Linked DNA regions of Homo sapiens. The protein of the gene in region 4 interacts with the protein of the main gene of each other region in a pairwise test. Each region holds a gene or a part of one and is shown on either strand. Other genes may lie near its edges.

Region 1 (5,751 bases), on a different chromosome or scaffold from region 4:
GCTGAGCTTTCCCCAGGCTAGGGAGGGCTGCAGAGTGCTTTCCTCTGTGGACGGGTCTTGTGCTGAGCCGCCACCCTGCTTGTAGTTCCCTTGACTCAGCTGTTGCCATAGTACAAGCTCATCTGTTCTCCCCTTAGCTCCTGAGCATTCACTGCACACGTTCTTTGCAGGCTCCGCTGGAAGCATGTCCCTCTGACTGTATGGCCTTCTGTCTATCCCTGCTAGATGGTGACCACAGCCCTGGCAACCATGAGCAGTCCTACGTGGGGAAGCGGTCAAACCGGGTGGTGCGAACCCTCCAGAACAGTAAGTGGAGGATGTGGCTGGCCTGGGCACCTAGGTGCTGTCTGCCTGGGCTTGAGGGACTGGCTTTGGTCAGCAGCCACCTTCCCCTGCCCCAGCCTGGGCCTGGCTCGCTCATCTGCCGCCCTTGTGTTCTAGCGCCGTCCCTGCACTCCAGGCACTGGGGAGCTCCCCAGCAGCGGGAGGGACGGCAGCAGCAGCATCACGAGGAGCTGAGTGCGACCCCCACCCCCCTGGGGCTGCAGGAGACCATCGCAGAGTTTTTGTACATTGCCCGGCCGCTGCTGCACTGTATCCTTAGCGCGGGGCAGGATAGGGCTGGCACTGTGGGCTGGGGATTGAGTGGGGAGTGTGCTGAGCAAGGCCCCTGTGCTGGAGACATCCTTGACGCCTTGGCCGTCAGTGCTCAGCCTGGGCCTGTGGGGTCAGAGGTCGTGGAAACCCTGGCTCTTGGCTGGTGTTGTGGACGTGACCAGGTGAGCCTGGGCCTGCCTGGGGCTTCACTCTCCACTGGGCTTTCTGCTATAATCCTGGCCTCACATAGGCGGGGTGGCAGCGGCCCCTGCTCCTCCTGTTGCTGCCCCTCTGGACACCCAGCCCATGGCTCCTCCCCTTCCGTGGGCCTAGATCATGCCCCTGGCCCTGACCATGTCCTCCCTGCCTCCCAGCCTGAGCCTCCTGAGTGACAGAAAGGGCCTGACCCGGAGGGAGCGGCGGGAGCTGCGGCGCCGGACCATCCTGCTGCTCTACTACCTGCTGCGCTCTCCTTTCTATGACCGCTTCTCCGAGTAAGCACCCAGGACACCCTGAGCCAGGGAGAGGGCTGGCAAGCGGGCACTGGTGCTCCGGTCCCTGCTGGCGCCTTCCCTTCCCCACGCCTCATCCAGGGTTCACCAAGCACTGTGTGTTGTCCGGGTGGCAGTCACCAGATGCCAGCCCAGTCCCGCCCGCAGAGCTCTCTGGGCCATCAGGCCACTTGAGCAGGAACTTAAACATTGGTTGGCAGGAGAGGCACTGAGGGCAGGGCTGAGGGCATTGCCAGGTGGCCCACAGGGATGGCGACAGGGCGGGCGCCCATGGCCTCTAGCTCATTTCCACTTCTTCCTGCCAAATAGTTTGGCTTATCCTCACTTCTCAGAGGAGGACCTGGAGGTTCAAGGAGGTTGGGCAACTTAAAGACACCCAGCTAGCCAGTGGTAGAGCTAGATCCCAAACCCAGGATCTCCCCTGGCCTTCCCTGCCTGGCCCAGCCCCCACTCAGTCACCTGCGAGGGTCCAGAGCTCCCAGCCTGAGAGAGGCCTGCTGGGTTGAGCAGGGGGCAGCTTGGGACTAGTTCTTCCACAGGCCTGCCACTATGACTGCTTGAGGTTAGACCACAGTCTGACAGGGGGAAACCCTGTGCAGTGGCTGGGACTGTGAGGCAGACAAGGCTCCCGGGACCCCCTTTGTCTAGGACCTAATAATAGCTTAAAAACTGGCATAGGCTGGGCAGCAGTGGCTCACACCTATAATCCTAGCACTTTAGGAGGCCAAGGCAGGAGGTTGGCTTGAGGCCAGGAGTTCGAGACCAGCCTGGGCAACCCAATTCTACAAAAAAAAAAAAAAAATAATAATAATTAGCCAGACATGGTGGTGTGCGCCTGTAAGTCCTAGCTACTCAGGAAGCTGAGGCATGAGGATCAGGCCAGGAGGCTGAGGCTGCAGTGAGTTATGATCACTCCATCCCACTCTAGCCTGGGTGACAGAGTAAGTCCCTGTCTCAAAAAAACAAAACAGAAAAAAAAAAACAAAACTGGCATAGTTTAGCCAGGCACGATGCCTCACACCTGTAATCCCAACACTTTGGGAGGCCGAGGCGGGCGGATCACAAGGTCGGGAGGTAGAGACCATCCTGGCTAACATGGTGAAACCCTGTCTTTACTAAAAATACAAAAATTAGCCAGGTGTGATGGCACACGCCTGTAGTCCCAGCTATTCAGGAGGCTGAGGCAGGAGAATCGCTTGAACCCAGGAGGCAGAGGTTGCAGTGAGTCGAGATCGCGCGACTGCACTCCAGTCTGGGTGACAGAGCGAGACACTGTCTTTTTTTGTTTGTTTGTTTTTGAGATGGAGTCTGGCTCTGTTGCCTGCCTAGGCTGGAGTGTAGTGGTGCAATCTTGGCTCACTGCAAGCTCTGCCTCCCGGGTTCATGCCATTCTCCTGTCTCAACTCCTGAGTAGCTGGGACTATAGGCGCCCATTACCATGCCTGGCTAATTTTTTTTGATTTTTTAGTAGAGATGGGGTTTCACCGTGTTAACCAGGATGGTCTCGATCTCCTGACCTCGTGATCCGCCTGCCTCGGCCTCCCAAAGTTCTGGGATTACAGGCGTGAGCCACCGCGCCTGGCCTGACCCATCTTTTTTTTAAAACAGAAAAAAGAGTAAGGCTGCTCCTTCTGGACCACACCCTGGCACCTCTCTGGACCCTGCTCCCTGTCCTTTAGGGAAACAAAGGCCCGCCTTGGCCTCCTAAAGTGCTGGGATTATAGGTGGAGCCACTGCACCCAGCCAGCCTTCTTCTTTTCTTTTCTTTTGTTTTTTGGGACGGAGTTTCACTCACGTTGCCCAGGCTGGAGTGCAATGGCGTGATCTCGGCTCACCGCAACCTCTGCCTCCCGGGTTCAAGCAATTCTCCTGCCTCAGCTTCCCAAGTAGCTGGGATTACAGGTGCGCGCCACCACGCCCGGCTAATTTTGTATTTTTTAGTAGAGATGGGGTTTCTCCATGTTGGTCAGGCTCGTCTCGAACTCCTGACCACAATTGATCTGCCCGCCTTGGCCTCCCAAAGCGCTGGGATTATAGGCATGAGCCACCACACCCGGCCCCCAGGCTTCCTCTTTTCTTGCTGCTCAGACAGACATATAAGGAGTCAGGCCGCCTTCCAGATGTGTAGCCTTGGGCAAGTTATTTGATGCGCCTGTGCCTCATTTCCTCACCTGTAAGATGGGGATGATGACAGTACCCACTTTGTAGGGGTTCAGTGACTAACGCGTACAGCAGTGCGTGGGGTGTAGTAAGCACGTAGCGCTATGTATTGTCATCAGCATCCTCATCTCACCCGAGTTCCCCTGTGGAAAACCCTCCTGTCTTAAAAATCAGGGCCTTGGGCCTTGCCCCTTCCCCTGAACCAAAATGTGCCCTCTTCAGTACTGTGTCCCCTACCAAGGTCCTGACTACTCTCATTGGTGGCTTGTGAGGTTTCCATGCAGCCCAGCACTTCTGCCAGACTGGGGGGCTTCCCGAGGGCAGGGTGGGGTTGTCCTCCCTGGACCCTCCACCATACTGCCAGGGCGCTGCTCCACATGCGACCCTCTAGAGGCCTTCAGTGTTGGATGTCGGTGGAAGGGGAAAGAGGAATGGGAGGAGGTGTTGTGGGTCAGCGGCCACCCCGAAGCTGAGCTGGTGGAGGGTGGAGGCCAGAGCCAACCCCAGAGGTCTTGCCCTTGTGTACCGGGCTTTGTCCTAGCTCCCAAGAAAGTCACCTTTGTTTTCTGGAATGCGCTGCATTCGGCACGGTGGTCAGTGAAGGCCTCTGGGCCTCCTGGTTTGCAGGGACCCACCCCCACCCCACTCAGCTTGCTCCCCATTTATTGCCTCCCCCAGGGCCAGGATCCTCTTCCTGCTCCAGTTGCTGGCCGACCACGTCCCTGGCGTTGGCCTGGTCACAAGTAAGCAGGGATGGGGACGCGATGACTGTAGTGCTGGAAGGCGCATGCATGCAAGCACCTCCCTGACTCCTCTGTCTCCTTGCAATTTGATTCTTGGCACAGTCAGGAGAGGAAGTCGGGAAGTCAGGATTGGGTGGGACTGCCCCTGGGCATAGGCCAGGGTGGCCTGAGGAGCCAGGGATGGCTGGAAGGAGGGTGTCCACTGGTGGGGGGACCACATCAGCTGCCAGCTTTTTTCTGGTCACAGTATCCTGGAGCGATACGGGACCATCTCATCTTGGGGGGATTCAATGGCAGAGAAGGGGTCCACCGGGCTGCTGAGATCCTCCCTCAGCAGAGGCCCACTGGGCTTGGGTTGGGTGACTGGACCTGACTCAGGCCCCTCAGTGTCTACCCTGGCTGAGCTTCTCTGGGCCTGAGGGTCTTTGTAAATGGTGCCAGAGTCCCCTGCAGTGCTGCCTCCTGGGGGCAGGGCAAGACAGCCAGCTGGGCTGGCTCCTGGGCCGCAGGGGTGAGGTGCTGTATGTGGCGCCACAGTGCAGATTGGGGTCTGGCCTGCCCTGATGTGTCCCTCTCCCACTGCAGGGCCGCTCATGGATTACTTGCCCACCTGGCAGAAAATCTACTTCTACAGTTGGGGCTGACAGACCTCCCGGAAGGAGGGTGTGGGGAGGGGTGGGGCAGGGAGCCCCTCTTCCCTAATAAAACTGACTCCGGCAGCGTCCCAGCGTGCGGCCTCTCCGTGCCTACCGGCCAGGCCCCACACACAGCCCTGGTCGCCACCAGCGTTCCTCCCAGGACACCCTTGACTGCGCTCTCCTGTGACGATGCCACTGCAGCCCGCACCTTGTCACTGCTGGGCCAAGAAGCCTTCACTAGGAGTGGGATCCAGGCTCCTCTCCCACAGAAAGCGGTGACTTCACCTCATGGAGCCCGGGAAGCTGCTCGCCTCGGCAGCCATAGGAGCGAACACTGCTGCTCTCTCGCTGGCCCCTGGTGAGGACAGGAAGCCTGAACCCGGGTGATGGCTGAACGCTGCCCAGCGTGTCTTCTGGCTGGGGCCCTCCGTCTGCCCCTTCTCCGCAGGGCCCTGTGGCTCTGGCAGCCCCAGGCCATGGCGTTGCCAGCCTCCCTGTGACAGAGCCTGGTGAACAGTGAGCCTGGCTCCCACGCAAGTGGCACTTTAAGCCCTGCATCCTCGGTTGAGAGTAAAAGGCTTTTCTCCCTTAGAAAAAGGACATCGGGCACTGGCCAGCACTGGGGAGGGAGTGGGAGCTGGACAGGCTCGGGGAGGAAGCCGGGGCCAGTTCAGGGGGTATGAGCTGGGGTTTCCCCATGCTTGCCCTGCAGGCTCCAGAGGCCGGGTCCACCTGGAGCCATGCAAGCTGCTATGGGGGAGGGCCTGGACAGGGTGGGCCGCAGGCTGGTCGTCTTCTCCCTGAACTTAGCCTGTCCTCAGCCACTGGCCCTGTGAAGAGCCAGCCTCTCATGCTAGAGTTTCAAACCCACAGAGAGGGCTCCATCTACACCTTGGTCCTCCATGCCTCAGCTCCTCCAAGACACACTGCTTTCCCCAGGGCCCTCTGAGGAGCGCCCCCCAGGTCCTCACCCACAGGCAGGGGAAGGGGCTGCCTGGGCTCCCATGGCCTCCAGCTTAGTGGAACAGGCGTTTCTGGGCACATGCCTGGCCATCAGAAACCAGCAGTGAAGCACAGTCCCCTGCCCTCCGCCTCTCACCA
Region 2 (7,036 bases), on a different chromosome or scaffold from region 4:
TAGAGGACATTTAGCTTCCTTGGTTGCAAGCCTAAATGCTACGAGCACCCCTAAACAGGGTAGGAAACCCCAGAGAAAAGCATGGCTGTAGCTATGGACCGAGGGTTGTGCCATCTGGCTTTTGCTTCAAACTCTGCCTTTGAGACTTCAGTCTCTTCATCTGTCCAACAAGGGAATGGAACAGGGCCATGAGCTTCCCTCTTAAGACCCCTCTCTAGAGTTCCCCTCTCCACAACCTCCATCTCCAGCTGCACCAAGAGAAGCCAGCCTGGCTGTCATCTATGCTGCCGCCACCACCACTGCCACCACCTCCTCCTCTTCCCCCTTCCCCTTATCTGTCACCTTCGGCTGAACCTTCAGTTCTGTTATTTTTCCCTCCTCAAAATCTCCAGTCCATTCTCTCCTCCATCTTCCTGTCACCACCTCTCACTGCTGAGAGAGCACCGTTGCTTCCCAGGTAGCCTCCGTGCCGCTCCTCTCTCAGAGCAGCCCAGTGATCCTTTCAAAGAGGAAAGCAATCAGGTCACTCTGCTGCTCCATTGCTCTTAGGGAAAGACCTTCACCAGGCTTGCCAGGCTCCGTGTGGTCAGGTCCCTGCCAGCCACTTCGCCCTCACTTTGTCCCTCGTTCCTCTGGCCTTTGAACAGACTGTTTCCTCTGCCTGCGTATTAACTTGTTTATTTGTTTATTATCTGTTGATCTGTATGCTCCATGAGGGCAGGGCCTGGGTCTGACTTGTATCACAGCACCTAAGTCTATGTCTGGCATCTAAAAGAGCCCTCAGCCAGGGGCGGTGGCTCACGCCTGTAATCCCAGCACTTTGGGAGGTTGGCGTGGGAAGATCTCTTGAGCCCAGGAGTTCCAGGCCCGCCTGGGCAACACAGGGAGACTCTGTCTGTATTCAAAAACTAAGGATAAATAAAAATAGTAATAAGTAAAAGAGCTTTGATGAACTCGGGATGATTGTGAGTGACCAGTGACCCTCCTTGATTAGCTTTATCCTGCGATCTCAGAGGGAGAGATCTGGGTACCCTGGGAGGTCAGGGCCATCAGTGTAGGTTTCGACAGCTTTAACTGGGGCAGGAGGAGAGTAGAGGAATTACAGGAGGCAGATGTAAGCATGAAGCTGGAAACCAGCCTGAGCCTCCCGCCAGTAATGGGGAGGGTATAGCCCAAGCAGGAGCTGGAGGGCTGGGAGTTCTGGGCTGAGAATGATCTTTGGGCCTCCACCTTGGGGAATGAAATTGAGCTTCTGTGAGGCCAGTCCCCAAGGTGATAGTGGCAGGTGGGACTCCAGTTTCCTAGAACAGGACAGGGAAGTTGAGCCTAGGGGGCATCAAGGTGAGAACTAGATGCCAAGGACAGCATTCAGAGTTTGGCCGGGGCCAGGTTTTCTCCAGCTGGTCTGAGTGCCTGTGTTACCAGGACACGTGTCTCTGCCAACCTTCTCTCTTCCCCTCCCACCCAGTGCATCGTGAGTGTTGCTGGTGGGGCCACTCGGGCTGCCCTGACCGTGCACCAGGCTCGGAGGAACAACATGGCTGACGTGTCAGCCAAGGACAGCAGCCAGGTGAGTGCCAGAGCTGGAGGGAGGGCGTGGAGTGGGGAGGGGAAGGGGAGAGAAGCCACTTGAGTGCCCTGGAGGGCCCAGGAACACACAGGAAGAAGTATGGGTGCTCCCTGCTGACTCAAGACACCCAGGCAGGAGTAGGGGTTTGGGCTCTGGTGGCGGCAAGTCCGAGCTGATCTCAGGCCCTGCCCGCCACCTGTGTGGCTGAGAGCAAGCCCTCAGCCTTGCCCTCTTCAGACCCCACCGTGCAAGCTGGATGTTCTGATCACATGAGGCCCCACATGTCAAGGCAATTGGCAAGTCAGAGTTACCCAGCATGTGGGGTTGCTGGGTCACTGGCTGGGGCCTCCACTCAGCAGTTTAGCAGGCCTGCTGGCCCAGCCCCCTTGCCCACCCTAGGGAGCCTGGAGTTGGGGTAGGGACACCCCTAAGGCTGAACTCCGCATGGATTAGACCTCTACAAACCCCGTGCTGAGTGCTTACGTGTACTGCATCACTTAACTCTCACGCCTGTCATCCTAGCACTTTGGGAGGCTGAGGTGGGAGGATCACTTGAGGCCAGGAGTTTGAAACCAGCCTGGGCAACCCGGCGAGACCCCATCTCTACATAATATATAAAAGAAACTTCAGCTAGGTGTGGTGGTGCACACCTGTAGTCCCAGCCTCGAGCTCAGGAGGTGGAGGCTGTGGTGAGCTAAGATCACCCCACTGCACTCCAGCCCAGGTGACAGAGCAAGACCCTGTCTCAAAAACAAACAAACTCTCACACCAACCCTTTGAGGTAGGTACTACTTTATCCCTAGTTTACAGATGAGGAAATTAAGGCCCAGGGAAGTCCCAGAAGTGTGAGATGGTTTTCTTTGACACTGAAGCAATTTAGAAACTGCTGTTCTGTGCATTCCTACTTTCTGGCCTTCTCTTCCATTGTTTGGCTCAATAATCTTAACCCAAGCTAATATTTATTAAGCACTAACCATGTGCCAAGTATTTTGGTTCTGGGAACTCTTTAAATTCTCACAGTGGGCATGTGCAGTAAATGCTCATGGTTGCCTTAGTACAGATGAAGAAATAAAGCATGGAGAGGTCCCATCTCCCTGGGGGCCCCTGGGGAAGTCCCTTCTCTCAGGATGCTCGGGCTTATTCCACCCATTGTCTCTTCTGAACCTAAGTCCACAGGCTGTTAAGGAGCAAGCAGGAAGCACAGCACAGGTCCCTCACCGCAGGACTCCCAGCTCCATGCCTGGTGTCCCTCTCCTGTTCTCTCGCTGGTCCCCAGACCTCCCCCTAACCCCAAGCCATTTTTCCCAAGACCCCAGGGCTTCCTCGGTCCACAGAGCCAGGGACATATCCGGGACTAACCTGGGAATGTGTCAGTCCCGCAGCAGACTCCAGCTTTCTGCCAGTGCAGCTTTGCTGTCACTGGATGTGGCCACTGGAAATGACTCTTCCCACCTGGGAGAGAGGAGCTCCTGAACTCCCCAGGTCCCTGATCCCCAGTTTCCTGCCACACCCACAGCGTTTATTCCCACAGCATATGCCCTTCCCAGGAGGGCTGGTTGAGAAGAGCTCTCCAGTCTCGGGTCCTCTCTATGCCAGGACCAGCTCTCCCTGGGAGCCCAGTAGTCAGGGGCACCAATCCAGACTCCTCCCTCATGATGAGTTGGGGGCAGGTAGCCTGGGGTCCCTTCCCCTAGAGTGATCTCAATCCAGCCATCAGAGTGTTCTCCTAACATTGATACACAAGGGAAGAGGTGTGGGTCTTGTTCCTTTTCTTCCCGGGTGGTTCCTTGACCCCTTTGCAAATCTATCTGCCAGTTACTGCATACCAAAGGAGCTTGGTGGGAGGGGAGCAGTCAACTTTTTAAAATCAGTAAATAAAAGTTATTCCAGCTCATGCCTGTTATCCCAGCACTTTGGGAAGCTGAGGTGGGGATTGCTTGAGCCCAGGAGTTCAAGATCAGCCTGGGCAATATAGCAAGACCCATCTTTACCAAAAAATGCAGTAATAATTAGCAGAGGCGTGGTGGTAGGATCACTTGAGCTCAGGAGTTTGAGGTGGCTGTGAGTTATGATTGCACCACTGCACTCCAGCCTGGGTGACAGAGCGAGACCCTCGCTCTTTAAAAAAAAAAAAAAGTACACATTAGTGAGTGCCTGAGTGTGGGTCTGTTCTGGTGACTTGCAAGACAAGATGTGTTCAAGGGTATTCCGAGGGCACCTACCTGGGCAAAAAAGCAACTGATACACATATGTATTTAGACAGGGTATCACTGTGTCTCCCAGGCTGGAGTACAGTGGTGCAATCATGGCTTAATTTTTTTTTTTTTCTTTTTTGGAGACAGTCTTGCTCTGTTGCCCAGGCTGGAGTGAAGTGGCGTGATCTCAGCTCACTGCAACCTCCACCTCCCAGGCTCAAGCAGTTCAGCCTCCTGAGTAGCTGGGAGTAGAGGCACGCGCCACCATACCTGGCTAGTTTTTTGTATTTTTACAAAAATGCAATGGGTCTCACCGTGTTGCCGAAGCTGGTCTTGAACTCCTGAGCTCAGGGAATCTGCCCACCTCGGCCTCCCAGATTGCTAGGATTACAGGCGCGAGCCACTATGCCCCACCAAATTTTTAATTTTTTTGTAGAAATAGGGTCCCACTATGTTGCCCAAGCTGGTCTCAAGCTCCTGGACTCAAGTGATCTGCCCACCTCAGCCTCCCAAAGTGCTGGTACTACAGGTGTGAGCCACCTCGAGCTGGCATCTTTTAAATGACATTTCACCCACCAAAAACTAAAAATTTACCCACATTGCAGTAAGGAGCCCTGGGAGGTTGTGGAGCAGGGAGGATGAGGTGAAAGGCACTCGGGCACTCAGTCTGGCCTGGAGGGGCACCTTCCAACTCCTTCTCCCTCTGCCATTTTCCAGGAGACGCTGGTGAACCTGGCGGGGCTCTTGGTCAGCCTCCTGATGCTCCCTCTGGTGTCAGGTTGCCCTGGGTAAGCCGGAAGCAGGGTGGGCAGGAGAACCCCAGCTGGGCCTCTGCCCACTTCAGCTACCTCACTCTCTCACCCCAGCTTCAGCCTTGGATGTTTCTTCTTCCTCACTGCCCTCCACATCTACGCCAACTACCGCGCGGTCCGAGCCCTGGTCATGGAGACCTTGAACGAAGGCCGGCTCCGGCTGGTCCTGAAGCACTACCTTCAGAGGGGAGAGGTACTCGACCCAACTGCAGCCAATCGCATGGAGCCGCTGTGGACAGGTGACCCTGCCCCTGGTCTCGGGTCCTGTGTCTCAACCTCTCCCACTGCCTAGGCATCCTGACCCCAGCTTCCCACAGGTTTCTGGCCAGCTCCGTCTCTATCCCTGGGGGTCCCCTTACACCGCTTGGTCTCCAGGTGAGTGGCCTAGCGTCTCCCGCTCGTCACCACCGCCACCCACACTCCCCTCACTCCGATTACACACTGGCCTCCCTGGCAAGGCCCCACCTCTCTGTCCTGGGTTCTTCATTGCTGCTGAACAGACATGGGGTTGGTGTGGGTGTGTGAGGAAGGAAAGGGTGTATAACATGAAGCAGATGTAAGAGATGTGCTTGATGGGTGAAGGAAGGATGGGTAGATGGGGAAGTTGGATGACTGGATACAGGAAGAAAGGATGGATTTGGTGTGTATGGGTAATGGCTGAGGGAGAGAGGAAGCGAGGGGACCTGAGTGAAGCCTGGATCATTTCAGTTCACTGGGTGGCTGTTCAGTGGCTGGTTGGGCATGCCTGCCTTTGCTGTCCTCCACCCCCACTGCACTGTCCTCTCCCCCACAGTGTCTTTGAGCTGCAGCAGCTGGTTGAGGGGCACCAAGAATCCTACCTCCTCTGCTGGGACCAGTCACAAAGTGAGTGTGCCTCATTCTCCCAGCCTAAGACGCACCCTCCCAGGTCAGCCTCTCATTCCTCCAACCTAGGGCCCCGAGCTCTGGGCAGTTTGGAGGCTGCCTGTTCTGGGGGTTGCTCTAGACCGTTCAAATTACAGCTGCAATGCCCCAGTGAAATTCATGTCACCGCTTTGTAAAACAGAGCTAACAGTACCTGCCTTATTCCTTGCGGTGTTTTTATGAGGATCAAATAATGTGACTGCAAAGCTACATTGCAGCACTCTTAGGAAGGCTATGACCTTTGCTGTCCGTGGGAAACCACCCTTCTCTCCATCCTGGGTTGCCTCTTGGGTAAACAAGTCCTTGAGTGTGCTGGTCCGCTGGTTGAGTGTGAAAAGGTGCTTATTCTCACTAGCCATTAAAGAAATGCAAAATAGACCCAGCCCAGTGAGCGGCTGGGAAATTGTATTTGGAAATTGGTCAGTTTGGCCCGAACATTGGGGAGCAACAGGAGATGAATTGGAAAGGAAAGGGTGAGGTGCTAGCCTTCCGTGCCAGGCCAAGGTCTTGGGGCAGACAGGGGAAGCAGGGTGATGGGATAGAAGGGGTTTGGGAGGTGGCCCTTCCCTGATACCAGTCTGTCTCTGGGTCCCTCCAGACCAGGTACAGGTAGTTCTGAACCAGAAGGCAGGCCCCAAGACCATCCTAAGGGCCGCCACACATGGGCTGATGCTTGGGGCCCTGCAGGGAGATGGACCCCTTCCAGCAGAGCTGGAGGAGCTGAGGAACCGGGTGCGGGCAGGTAAGTGCCTCAAGATTTAGACTGCTGATGCCTCAGGGTGGGGAGGAGAGAGGACAAACTCTGTCCTGCTGGAGGACACAGAGCTTCTGGTTCTGCACCCCCGTACCCAGGTCCTAAGAAAGAGAGCTGGGTCGTCGTCAAGGAGACACACGAAGTGTTGGACATGCTGTTCCCAAAGTTCTTGAAAGGTAACATCCCTCAGCCCATGGCTGCTTGGCCCCTGAAGCCTTGTCCCTGGGGGCCCCGCCTTCCCCCACTCCCACCCTTTCACCTGAAAGGTAAAAGACTTGGGTTCTTGGGCCTGGTGCAGAGGCTCACACCTATGATTCTAGTGCCTTGGGAGGCCTAAGTGGGCAGATTGCTTGAGACCCTGCCTGGGCAACATGGCAAATCCTTGTCTGTACAAAAAAAACACAAAAATTAGCCAGGTGTGGTTCTGCTCTTGTGGTTGCAGCTACTCAGGAGGCTGAGGTGGGAGGATCACCTGAACTGGGGGAGGTCGAGGCTACAGTGAGCCATGATTGTACCAGCCTGGGTGACAGAGCAAGACCCTCTCTCAAAAAAAAAAAAAAAAAAAAGACTGTCGGGCACAGTGGCTCACACCTGTAATCCCAGCACTTTGGGAGGCCAAGGCGGGCAGATACTTGAGCTCAGGAGTTCAAGGCCAGCCTGGGCAACATGGTGAAACCCTGTCTCTACCAAAAATATAAAAAAATTAGCTGTGCATGGTGATGCACGCCTGTGGGACTGTCAGGAGGCTGAGATGGGAGGATCACTTGAGCCTAGGAGGCAGAGGTTGCAGTGAGTCCAGATT
Region 3 (7,536 bases), on a different chromosome or scaffold from region 4:
TGTTTAGGTCGCCCTTCCCCCATCCTATAATCCTGGGAAGGTGTGGGAGTTTTTTGCTGTATCTCAGCACTTGTCCATCCTATAGCCACCTCATCATAACTCCCCAAGGAGGACTACTTATTAATACCTCTGTATCTCTTGATACTGCATCATTTGTGTATTTGTGTTTGGGAGTGGACAGTATTATTTAAAATATTTTTTCTGGAATAGATAACTAATTGCCCCAAAATAATTTACTGAATAATCCATTATTCCTTCCTTAATTTGAAATGTTACCTTTATTATAAAATAAACGCTTGGATATGTATATACCAGATCCATGTCTGGAGTCTGCATTATTTTTTCATTGATCCATTTGTTGATTTCTGCATGTCAAGTGCCAAATGTTTTACATTATTATAGCTCTTTACAGTGTGTCTTGATATCTAGTAGGCCAATCTTATGAGGAAAAACAATGTTATTTTTGCTTTATTTTGCGTATCCCATAGGGCCATTAAGATTGAACCATCCTTTCATTTTGCTTGGTCTCAAGTTTTCTCTTTTGAGGATGCCCAATTCATATCCTTTAATCATTTGTCAATTACATATATTGGAGAATTCCTTCTTCCAGGTATTTCAACTTTATTTACAGTGTCATTCATATGAATGAAGCTTTTCATCTGGATGCAGTTAAATTTTCAATCTTTCCTTCTATGGCTTTTAATTTTAATAACTTGCTAAAAGGTTTCCTTCCCCTCCCTCAAAAGTTGTAAAACTATTCTCCCAGACTTTCTTCATTATTTTTCATATTTAGGTCACTAATCCATCTAGACAGGGGGATAAAAATGTCCAGGGATGAGATATTTCTCTGCCAATTCAGATGGGACAGCAGTGTAGGGTGCCTGGACCTTAGAGAATTCAGTCACCCCTGCCGTGTGTGAAGGGTGACTGTAATGAAGAAAGGAATGCCTTCTGAACATCCAGTTGACTGTAAGTTCTTCATGAATTTACATAAACTACTCACATCTGAACAAAGATCTTCTGGTACTGTCTTCTGGATTCCTTATCTGTGCGTGAGGGGCTAACAGTAAGATGTTTAGTGTTGAGCTGTTGGTGGCCAGGTACAGCCTCTAACTATAATCCCAGCACTTTGGGAGGCTGAGGTGGAAGGATTACTTAAGGCTGGGAGTTTGAGATCTGCCTGGGCAACATAGTGAAGCACCGTCTCTATTAAAAAAAAAAAAAATAGTGTGGAGTTGGAAGACATAGGACACTAAGTAACAGGCTGGGCTCCAAGCAGGGTTGTAGAAGACATGAAACTAAAACCTAGCTCCCTGTAGTCTGTTGACTGAAGCCATTTTGCCTCTCCAACATTTCTTGTAGCATGAATAATTTCTCCAATATCTCCCTCGTTGCAGATTTAATACCTAAATAGAAATACTGAAAAACGGCAGCCTAAAATTGGGGAAGTTCTTGAAACTTTTGGTAAGGTAGGCTGGGTATGGTGGCTCACACCTGTAATCTCAGCACTTGGGGAAGCCAAGGCAGGTGGATCACCTGAGGTCAGGAGTTTGAGACCAGCCTGGTCAACATGGCGAAACCCCATCTCTACTAAAAATACAAAAAATTAGCTGGGTGTGGTGGCATGTGACTGTAGTCCCAGCTACTAGAGAGAGTGTGGCAGGAGAATCACTTGAACCCAGAAGGCCAAGGTTGCAGTGAGCTGAGATTGCGCCATTGCACTACAATCTGAGCAATAGAGTGAGACTCTGTCTCAAAAAAAAAAAAAAGTTTTGGTATGGTAAAGGCTTGATCAGAACTGTACTTGAAAAAGATGATCCTGTTATTTGTCAGACAGATTCAATAAAGGGACTGCATGTGGGCTGAAGTGGCAGGAAGTAGGAAGGAGTGACTGACTCATGAGACAGTGGAGATGAAGCCATGATTTAATCTAGAAGGATTAGATATTGTATTACCCAATCAGTAGAACTCTTGACAGCTGATTAGTCTGCAATCTTTATATGATATGGGGGAAGTCAAAGCAAGGAATCTGGGTACAAGGTAGAAAGAAAGTGCTGTTCACATAGAGTAGGCCGGGCGAGGTGGCTCATACTTGTAATCCCAACACTTTGGGAGGCCGAGGCAGGCAGATCACCTGAGGTCAGGAGTTCGAGACCAGCCTGGCCAACATGGTGAAACCCCGTCTCCACAATTAGCCAAGCGTGGTGGTGCACACCTGTAATCCAAGCTACTCAGGAGGCTGAGACAGGGGAATCACTTGAAGTGGGGAGGCAGAGGTTGCAGTGAGCCGAGATCGCAACACTGCACTCCAGCCTGGGCAACAAGAGCAAAACTCCATCTCAAAAAAAAAAAAAAAAAAAAAAAAAACCACAGACAGGGTAGCCTTGGTGAGGATGGACTCTGTGGATAATGATAATGGACTTCTTGTCTTTGAGGTGTGAGTAATCTTTGGTAAAGGTGACCAACTGGGAAGAGGTGAGGGCTGAAGAGATTATTTTAGTCAGCTGAAGGTGAAAATTGAATCTGATAGGTACTGAAAACACAAAGAAGATAATAAGCAAAACTTATTCTAGGAGAGAAGAAAGAAAAGGAAAGCTGAGAAAACAAGGAGTTATTCAGAAGGAGGAGAAGAATAAAGAGGGTGGTGTGATCAAGGATGATAAGGACTAAGAAAACACCAATTGTTACAATTGTTACTGTTAATCTTGATATTCAAGAGCACTGTGGTCTACCTGGGAAATGGATTTCCTCACATATTCTGAAATTCATTCTTTAAGACTTTATATCCCAAGATACTCACGTAAAAAATGAGGAAAGAGAACCTTGGTTGGTTCCAGAGTGCCCTCTCTGGAACTGGAACACTCAGCTGCCAATTGTTTTCCAGTATTCCTCACCCACTTGGGCATGACAGGACCCTGTGCTGTTTCTTCTTCTTTGAAATAAGGACAATAGTTTACTGCCTAGGATTGTTTTAAGAATTAAATTAGTTAATTATTGTATAGTACTTAGAACAATGCCTTGAACATAGTAGGTGTTCAATAAATACCAGCTACAGTATAGTAACTTTTTTTTTTTTTTTTTGACGGAGTCTCACTCTATAGCCCAAGCTGAAGTGCAGTGATTGGATCTCGGCTCACTGCAACCTCCGCCTCCGGTGCTCAAGCAATTCTCGTGCCTCAGCCTCCCAAGTAGTTGGGACTATAGACACGCGCCACCACCCCCAGCTAATTTTTTGTATTTTAGTAGAGACAGGGTTTCACCATGTTCTCCAGGGTGGTCTCGAACTCCTGAGCGATCCACCCACCTCGGCCTCCAAAAGTGCCAGGATTATAGGCTTGAGCCACTGCGCTTGGCCAGTAACCCATTTTTAAGGCCCAGGTGAAATAGTTTTTCTATTTCTATGATTTTCTATTTCTATGATTAAATAGTGTTTAATCAGACACTTCAGCTGCATATACCTCCCACAGCTCATTGATGATACAACAGTTCGCACAGGGCCTGGCACACATGCTAAAGGCTCAGCAGTATTGATAATCACCCACACTTACAAAGCACTATGGGCCAGACACTGCTGTGCTTTCTTTACAGATATCAACTCATTTAACCCACCCTAAAAACCCTGAGGTTCCCAAAACTGGCATATCCTCATGTTACAGATACAGAAACTAAGACACAGCCGGGCTAAGTAATTAATCTAAGCTTACACAAATAGCCGAGACAGAGCCAGGACTTAAATCCAGGCAGCCTGTTTCACAGTCCCTGCTCATAACCATGGTGCTGTATAGTTCCAAACATCTTAACTAATGAGGACAGCATTATTTCTCAAGGTGCACAGCACAGAGAACTTCAAAAATTAGACTCTTAGTAAAACACCATCTTTTTTTTTTTTTTTTGAGACAGGGTCTTGCTGTGTTGCCCAGGCTGGAGTGCAGTGGCGTGATCTGGGCCCACTGCAACCTGCACCTCTCAGGTTCAAGAGAGTCTTGTCTCAGCCTCTGGAGTTGCTGGGACTACAGGCAGGCACCACCGCGCCCAGCAAATTTTTTGTATTTTTAGTACAGACGGGGTTTCACCATGTTGACCACGCTGGTCTCAAACTCCTGACCTCAAGTGATCTGCCCGACTCGGCCTCCCAAATTGCTGGAATTTATTCCAACACCTCATTCATTCATTCATTCATTCGAGACAGAGTCTAGCTATGTTACCCGGGCTGGTCTCAAACTCCTGGGCTCAAGGGATCTTTCTACCTCAGCCTCCCAACGTGCTGAGATTACAGGGACACGCCACCGCGCCAGCCCGAACATCTTTATCTTAAACCCAGAAAAGTGACAGGAGTGTCTCCCCTACAAGATGATGACCAGCCCTCCAGACCTGAGCCCAGGTGTGATTCCAAGGCCCCTGTACTGGGGCCAGACAGGGAGACTCGCTCTCAGGGACTTCCCAACCAGCACCATCTTCTCCCTGCGGGGATGGCGAGGGAGCGCGGGCCGGCCCCGGCCCTGCCTCCGCGCTCGCGCTCGACGGTGTCCTGAAGCGCGCTCCCGGGGAGGTGTTGCAGCCATGGCTACGGCAGCCGGCGCGACCTACTTTCAGCGAGGCAGTCTGTTCTGGTTCACAGTCATCACCCTCAGCTTTGGCTACTACACAGTAAGGACAGCCGCTGGAGCGCTACGGTCTGACGAACGAGCGAGCGCTCGGTTCACCCCAGGACCTGGGCTCACAGGCCGCGGGCCGGGGGAAGTCGTGCAAGCACAATCCCGACTCCCGCGCGCTAGGAGCGGAGGGGAGGGGACCAGACTCCGCAATGAGAGCAAGCATACTGGTCCGCCAGGGTCTTGGGCGGGCGCCCAGGGCCCTGAGAAACCGGCTAGCCAGGCTTTTCTTATATGGGGGCGGGGACGGCTGGGGAGCTCCCAGCCAACTCTGTGTCTGGGTTTTTCAAGAGGATGGTGAAGTCGGAGGCCAGCAATGCGGCTACCGCCTATTTCCGTCCAGCAAGACCCTTGCCCTCTCTGGTCACAGTCCTGGGGCTGGGCTACTTCGCGGTGAGGCGTGGGGTGGGGCGGGGCGGGCCTCTGTTTTGGCCCGCCGGGCCCTCGTAGGGCGAGGGGAGCTCTGGGAACGGGGCCTGTGCGCACGCGCATCTGACGGTTGTCTCGGTTACTCATGTAAGCGGAAATTCGGTGGGCTCTTAGGATAGTTTCTGCTTTCTAGTGTTCCTGTCTTTGGGTCCTCACCTCTGCATGGTTACTAACGGGTTATCCGAGCCTAAGCCTCTCACGAAGCGGAAAGTCAAGTTAACAGACTGCCATAGGCCTGCCAAGTCAGAATAGGGCTTCCGAAGCAGAATGTTTGAGCCAATAGGAATTGTTTGGAAAACGGGGATAAATCTAAAGGATGGGTAGGATTTAAGTGGTAAGGGAGGATAAAGAGGCTATAACTGTTCTGACATAGGTGTGGAAGCAAGAAGAAAGCTGTACCTAGAAAAAGAGCGACGTTTGTTTGGCTGAGAAATAATCTGTTTAAAGGATAACGAGAAAGATGCGTGGAAAAGTAGGTTGGGGGCTAAGGTGGTAGTTTTGTGTTTTTTTGAGACGGAGTCTCGCTCTGTCACCCAGGCTGGAGTGCAGTGGGGCGATCTCGGCTCACTGCAACCTCTGCTTCCCAGGTTCAAGCGATTCTCATGTCTTTACCTGTAGCTGGGATTACACTATGCCCAGCTATTTTTTTGTGTTTTTAGTAGACATGGGTATTGGTGAGGCTGGCCTCGAACTCCTAACGTCAAGTGATAAGGTGGTAAAATTTTGAAGGAAGGCGAAGCTATTTGGGTATACCAATAGATCCTGGAGATTGGAGATTTGTCTTGTCCACAGTGTTGTTTGTTGGTGTCAAATCTGACAACCTATGTCCTGATTTCCCCATATGTACAATGGAGGTGTTGAACTGAAAATTTTCAAAGGTGCATTTCTGTTCTACGATTTAGTGTCTGTGACTAGTTAGAATATAGTTGGAGGAAAGCTTTGGGGACTTCAAATTGGGATCTTGTGGAGCTGGCAGATGCTCCCCTTTCCCTTTGGTTTGGGAGGATGCAGTGATATTTGTGCATTATTTAACTTTCAGATGTGAAACAACATCGTGAGAGAGGTAGTACTGCTCTTGACAAAGATTTGAATGGGACAATACATTTTGAAACTGTTGAGTTATTCTCAGAAAAGTCTTAGCTGACAGAAGTTACAATACAGAGGCTGAAAGTTAAGATTACGAAAAATTTATGTGATTAAGCAGTTGCTATTAAAATGTCACAACCTTATCTCACTTATTTTCCATCTCTATGCAGTGGATCATTCTCAGTTTTAGCCGTACAAAAAGGGAAAGCCGAGAAAGGAATTCTAAATTAAACAGAGGTTTGGCTGGAGCCAGTTTCTGCAGTAAAGAAACTAGCCAAAGCACATAAACTCAAAATTTGCTAATATCTTTTATAAAATAATGGTTTTGGTGGAATGTATTAATAGGAGTCAGCCAGGCATGGTGGTTCACCCCTGTAATCCCAGCACTTTGGGAGGCCGAGGCGGGCAAATCGCTTGAGCCCAGGAGTTCGAGACCATCCTGGGCAACATGGCAAAACCTCATCTCTACACACACACACACACACAAAATTAGCCATGGGCAGTGGCTCACACCTGTAATCCCAGCACTTTGAGAAGCCGAGAAGGGCGGATCACCTGATGTCAGGAGTTGGAGATCAGCCTGGCCAACATGGTGAAACTCTGTCTGTATTAAAAATACAAAAATTAGCTGGGCGTGGTGGCATGCACCTGTAGTCCCAGCTACTCTGGAGGCTGAGACAGGAGAGTCGTTTGAATCCGCGAGGCGGAGGTTACAGAGAGCCGAGATCGTGCCACTGCACTCCAGCCTAAGCGACAGAGTGAAACTCCATCTAAAATAAATAAATAAATAAATAAATTAGTCAGTCGTGGTAGCCATGCCTGTATTCCAGCTACTTGGGGAAGCTGAGTTGGGAGGATCGCTTGAGCCCGGGAAGTCAAGGGTGCAGTGAGCCGTGATCAGGCCACTGCACTCAAGCCTGGGTGACAAAGCGAGATCCCTTCTCTACAAAGAAAACAAAAGAAGAAAAGGAAGAAAAAAAGACTTTAAGAGTCATCCACCGTGGGCACTGAGTCTGATAACCACATACTTTCCTCAGCATAAGTCTCCCAGTAGAGTTGCTTTTAGAAAATAGAAGTCATCCTGGCACAGTAGGTCATGCCTGTAATCCCAGCACTTTGGGAGGCCAAGATTGGAGAATTGCTTGAGCCCTGGAGTTGGAAACCATCCTGGGCAACATAGTGAGACCCCATCTCTATATACAATTTTTAAAAGTAGCTGGGCATGGTGGCACACACGTGTAGTCCCATCTACTTGGGAGGCTGAGGTGGGAGGATGGATTGAGCCCAGATGGTGGAGGCTGCAGTGAGTCATGATCATGCCACTGCACTCCAGCCCCAGCAGCGGAGTGAGACCCTGTCAAAAAAAAAA
Region 4 (3,937 bases):
TTTATAGCAGTCTTCAAGTTTTCCATCTTCACTGTATGTTGCTGAAAGTGAGGATGAGGATACAGAGTTGATATTTTTAGAAACAGTAATTTTACTTTTAAGGAAATTGGCTAGCTCTTTGAGCTAGAGAGCTGTAGGAAGCTCAACATTTCTTTGTAGAGAACGTTGCTTTTTTTGGATTGTACAGGTATAAAAACATTGCTTTTGTTGAATTGTATAGGTGTAAAAAGGGAATAACTGTATGCAGGTTTGAAAAGGAAATGTGCTTTAGGCATGAGTCATAAGATGCCATTGTACTTGTAGGCATTTTATTTTCCTTTAGAAATGGACATCAGCTCTTCTCTTCTGACTGGTAACACATAGCCCCAAAGCATGAGATTATTTTTCATTGGGTTTTTATTGTTGTTTAGTTTTGGTTTGTTACGCCAGCCCAGTCTGTCTGCGGAACACTGACTCTGCTCTCTAATGAGAACAAAGTTAGAAATCTGCCGATAACCTAAAATAATTTAGAAATGAATTAAAAATGTGAAATCGGGTTAAAGTGATGATGATAAAATAGCATGCAAGAAACAAGCTCCTTCCATCAGACTTGGCTACTGTTTTCTTCTGGTACGATTTGGTTTGGAAGAGCCTCTTGTTTCCTTCTCTTTGGGGTATGTCTTCGTTTCTTAATATGTTTGTAACATTATTGAGATATAATTCACATACCTTACAATTCACTTATTTTAAGGGTACAATTTAGTGGTTTTTAGTGTATTCACAAAGTTGTGTAACCGTGACCACAGTCAATTTTAGAACATTTCGTTACCCCAAAAAGAAACCCTGTACCCTTGAGCAGTCACCTCTCATTTTCTCCCAGTGCCCACCCCATCCCCGAGCCCCTGGCAACCACTAATCTATTTCTCTCTCTGTAGATTTGCTTATTCTGGTCATTTCATATAAATGGAATTCTACAATATTCGGTCTTTTGGGACTGGCTTCCCAAATATGATTTTCTATATGGAGTGAGAAAATTCTTCTCATCTTGAGAACTCTTATTGCTGTGAAAGGGAGTGGTTGGTAAAATCAATAGATTTCAGGCAAGAGGGCCAGATACCTAACAGGTTTTTCTCCGTGAATCTTATGCTGAGTAGTTTTTCCTCATAACCAAGCATTTATGATATATTACTACTTATAATACTGTGGCTAGTCTCTAGAATGGATGTTGAAATCTTTGCCTCCTCAGTCGGGAAGAGTCCTGCTAAAAATCAGGCTAAAAATCAGGCCAAAAATCAGGCCAAATGACTTGGCAAATAATTGACAAAGTGGTTTTCACGTGTGTCTATCTTTGCTAGCAGCTTGTATACCTCAGGCCAGGTGAGCTCCCCAAATTTCTTTTTTCATTTACTCCAGTGAGTTTCTGCTGTCTTTTTCAAGTATGTACCATAGGACTTAAAGGTGATTTGGATGCGTTGTAACACTGCTAAATATGCTAAGTACAGAATTTTATCTACAGTACTGTGAGACAGTCAATTATTGCCTAGGGTAGTTCAAAAATATGATGTGAGCTAGTTAAGCCTTTGCTTGACTGATTTCAGTGATATTCAGAAGTGTGTACCAATCAAGGCTCTTTAAAATACGGAACGACTCACTTAATAACCAGGGAACCAGCCAAATACTGTGCAGCCGCAGAATATGCATATCAATGAGTTGGAGGTGATTATTCTCTGTAACTCCCTAATGATTGTTTTCTAAGCATTGTGGCTTCTCAGTGGCTTGACAGCATCTTCCTGGTTGTATGTGGCCTGTTTACATGATGTATTGAATAATGTTGTTTGTTGTGAGCATCAATGCCTGTAACACCAAACTAAACACGTGTTTTTGGGATATGTTTCCAATCTTTAAATGACCTTGCCCTGTCCAATAAATAAATGATTGTCTCACCCTGTTTTTGGTAGTGTTTTTTGGGCTTTTTTTTTTTGGACTTTTAATCTCATTTCTTCTGCTTTTCTGTCCCCAGAAAAATGTAAGAGCTAATTTTATGACTGTATTTTTCTACTGTGATGCTGTTTTACTGAATTCAATGGATAATTTAATTGTACATGTAAAATCTTACTGCAGTTTTATGTTTTTAATAGTCAAAATAGAATGTATAATCTTGATGATGTTTATAAATCATCAAATGCCCTTTGGGGTGTAAAAATGGGTTCTTGAGCAGCAGTGTCTAATGATTCCATCACAAATTTGTTATAAAGCCAAACTCCCATTGAAAGTGTCACTTTATACTTAATAGGAAATCGTTATGATTAAAGCATCAAGGAAGCAAATATAAAGTTTAATGAAAATCCAAGGGGAAGTTCTAAATTGCAAAACTTGGCACTTATCTACAGTATTTTGAAAAATAACACCACCGGTATTCAAACCTACCTAGGAATATCTCAAAATAACCTGTTAATTAAGTGTTCTTAGAAAGGGGAGTGGGGGCAAGAAAGATGATGTATGCACATGGCGAAAAGATCAGATGGTACAGAAAGGTATAAAAACTTGGTCCCTTCCCTCCTACCCTAATACTCCTCTCCAAAAGTAACCAGTTTCAAGTGTCTTGTACTCACAGGAAAACAATTTTTTATTTTTTATCAGCAAATTTGTACTTTAAAAATTTCACATTAATAGAATCAGACTATATATACTCTTCTGTACCTTGCTTTTTTTGCTACCTGTGTTTTATGAGATCTTTCTGTATCAGTATATATAAAAATACCTCATTATTTTTAGCGGCTGTGTGGTATTCTAATGTTTGAATGTGTTACAAATGTTCAAACACTGATAGGCTCTTTAGGTTGTTTCCAATATTAAATCACATTGTGGTGAATATACTTGTACATATAATGAGTTTTTATTCTACAGTGTACCTAGCAATACAATTGCTGGATCAGAGGGTATTTTTTATTTTCAGTTCAGTAGTTACTGCCAAATTGTCCTCTAGAAATCTTTGCCCAGTATGCTTCCACATATAATGTATGAGAATGATTATTTACCAAACCCATGCCAATACTGGGTACTAAACTTTTGAAGTCTGATCATGTGAAAGTGAATAAATGGTATCTTGCGTTTTAATGAAGTTCTAATGCATTTTAATGAAGGTCTGGTACATTTTAATGAAGGAGATGGAACACATTTTCATGTTTATTGATTACTGATATTTCCTGTGAAATGTGTAGTCATGTTCTGTTTTCTATTAGGTGGTATGTGTTTTATTGATTTGTATGAGCTTTTTGTAAGCTAAGAAAATTGGTCCATTGTCATGTTTAATAATATTTTCCTAAGTTTTATTTATGTAGTTAAACTTAGTCTTTACAGCTTCTGAGATTTTGCCTTGCTTAGAAAGGCCACCTTTGCATTTAAGAATAAATTTAATGTATTTTTCCAGTATTTTAAAGGTTTTTTTTTCAACTTTTAAATCTTTGATTCATTTGGAATTTGTCTAGGTAGTAAGAGTGAGGAGAGGATTCAACATTTTTCTCTCCAATAGCAATCTATTCTAACCCCATTTATTAACTTTTTCAACACTGATTGGAAAAACCATCATCCTCATTCATACATCAAATTTCCATATGTCTGGTTAGATATGCTTCTGGGTTCTGTAGTCTGTTGCAAAAAATACGAGTCTTTTAATTATTTTAAATTGTTATATATTTTTGTCTTGGGTATTGCTAGTCCATACCTCATTTTTAGGAATTTTTTCTAGTTACTGCATGTTTATTTTTTTCAGATAAGCTTTCATATCATTTTGTCCAAATCTAAAATTATATTTTCCCTGAAATTTAATTTTGAAAAATTTCAAATCTACAGAAAATGTGAAAGAAAATAGGATGGACACCAGTATACTTTTCATTTAGGTTCACCATTTTTAACATTTTACCACTGTTGCTTTTGCTCTCTCCAGATGTGCTTTTCC

The links.
Region 1: the proteins of MMGT1 (region 4) and PEX16 interact in binary tests that used the Homo sapiens proteins (3 or more experiments, as listed by UniProt).
Region 2: the proteins of MMGT1 (region 4) and RUSF1 interact in binary tests that used the Homo sapiens proteins (3 or more experiments, as listed by UniProt).
Region 3: the proteins of MMGT1 (region 4) and TMEM254 interact in binary tests that used the Homo sapiens proteins (3 or more experiments, as listed by UniProt).

The regions. Positions count from the first base shown.
Region 1 is NC_000011.10:45,909,159-45,914,909, reverse strand, and holds the end of PEX16 (peroxisomal biogenesis factor 16), read left to right. Parts: intron 1-225; coding exon 226-306; intron 307-441; coding exon 442-594; intron 595-706; coding exon 707-779; intron 780-971; coding exon 972-1,091; intron 1,092-3,947; coding exon 3,948-4,012; intron 4,013-4,597; coding exon 4,598-4,656; 3' UTR 4,657-4,732; coding exon of another isoform or gene 4,733-4,821; 3' UTR 4,822-5,247; downstream 5,248-5,751. UniProt on the Homo sapiens protein: Required for peroxisome membrane biogenesis. May play a role in early stages of peroxisome assembly. Can recruit other peroxisomal proteins, such as PEX3 and PMP34, to de novo peroxisomes derived from the endoplasmic reticulum (ER).
Region 2 is NC_000016.10:31,491,383-31,498,418, reverse strand, and holds part of RUSF1 (RUS family member 1), read left to right. Parts: intron 1-1,468; coding exon 1,469-1,570; intron 1,571-4,482; coding exon 4,483-4,553; intron 4,554-4,631; coding exon 4,632-4,816; intron 4,817-4,894; coding exon 4,895-4,952; intron 4,953-5,370; coding exon 5,371-5,441; intron 5,442-6,078; coding exon 6,079-6,222; intron 6,223-6,332; coding exon 6,333-6,410; intron 6,411-7,036.
Region 3 is NC_000010.11:80,074,140-80,081,675, forward strand, and holds the start of TMEM254 (transmembrane protein 254), read left to right. Parts: upstream 1-4,525; 5' UTR 4,526-4,560; coding exon 4,561-4,647; exon of another isoform or gene 4,648-4,886; coding exon of another isoform or gene 4,887-5,045; exon of another isoform or gene 5,046-5,054; intron 5,055-5,105; exon of another isoform or gene 5,106-5,541; coding exon of another isoform or gene 5,542-5,553; intron 5,554-7,500; coding exon of another isoform or gene 7,501-7,536.
Region 4 is NC_000023.11:135,960,062-135,963,998, reverse strand, and holds the end of MMGT1 (ER membrane protein complex subunit 5), read left to right. Parts: 3' UTR 1-3,411; downstream 3,412-3,937. UniProt on the Homo sapiens protein: Part of the endoplasmic reticulum membrane protein complex (EMC) that enables the energy-independent insertion into endoplasmic reticulum membranes of newly synthesized membrane proteins.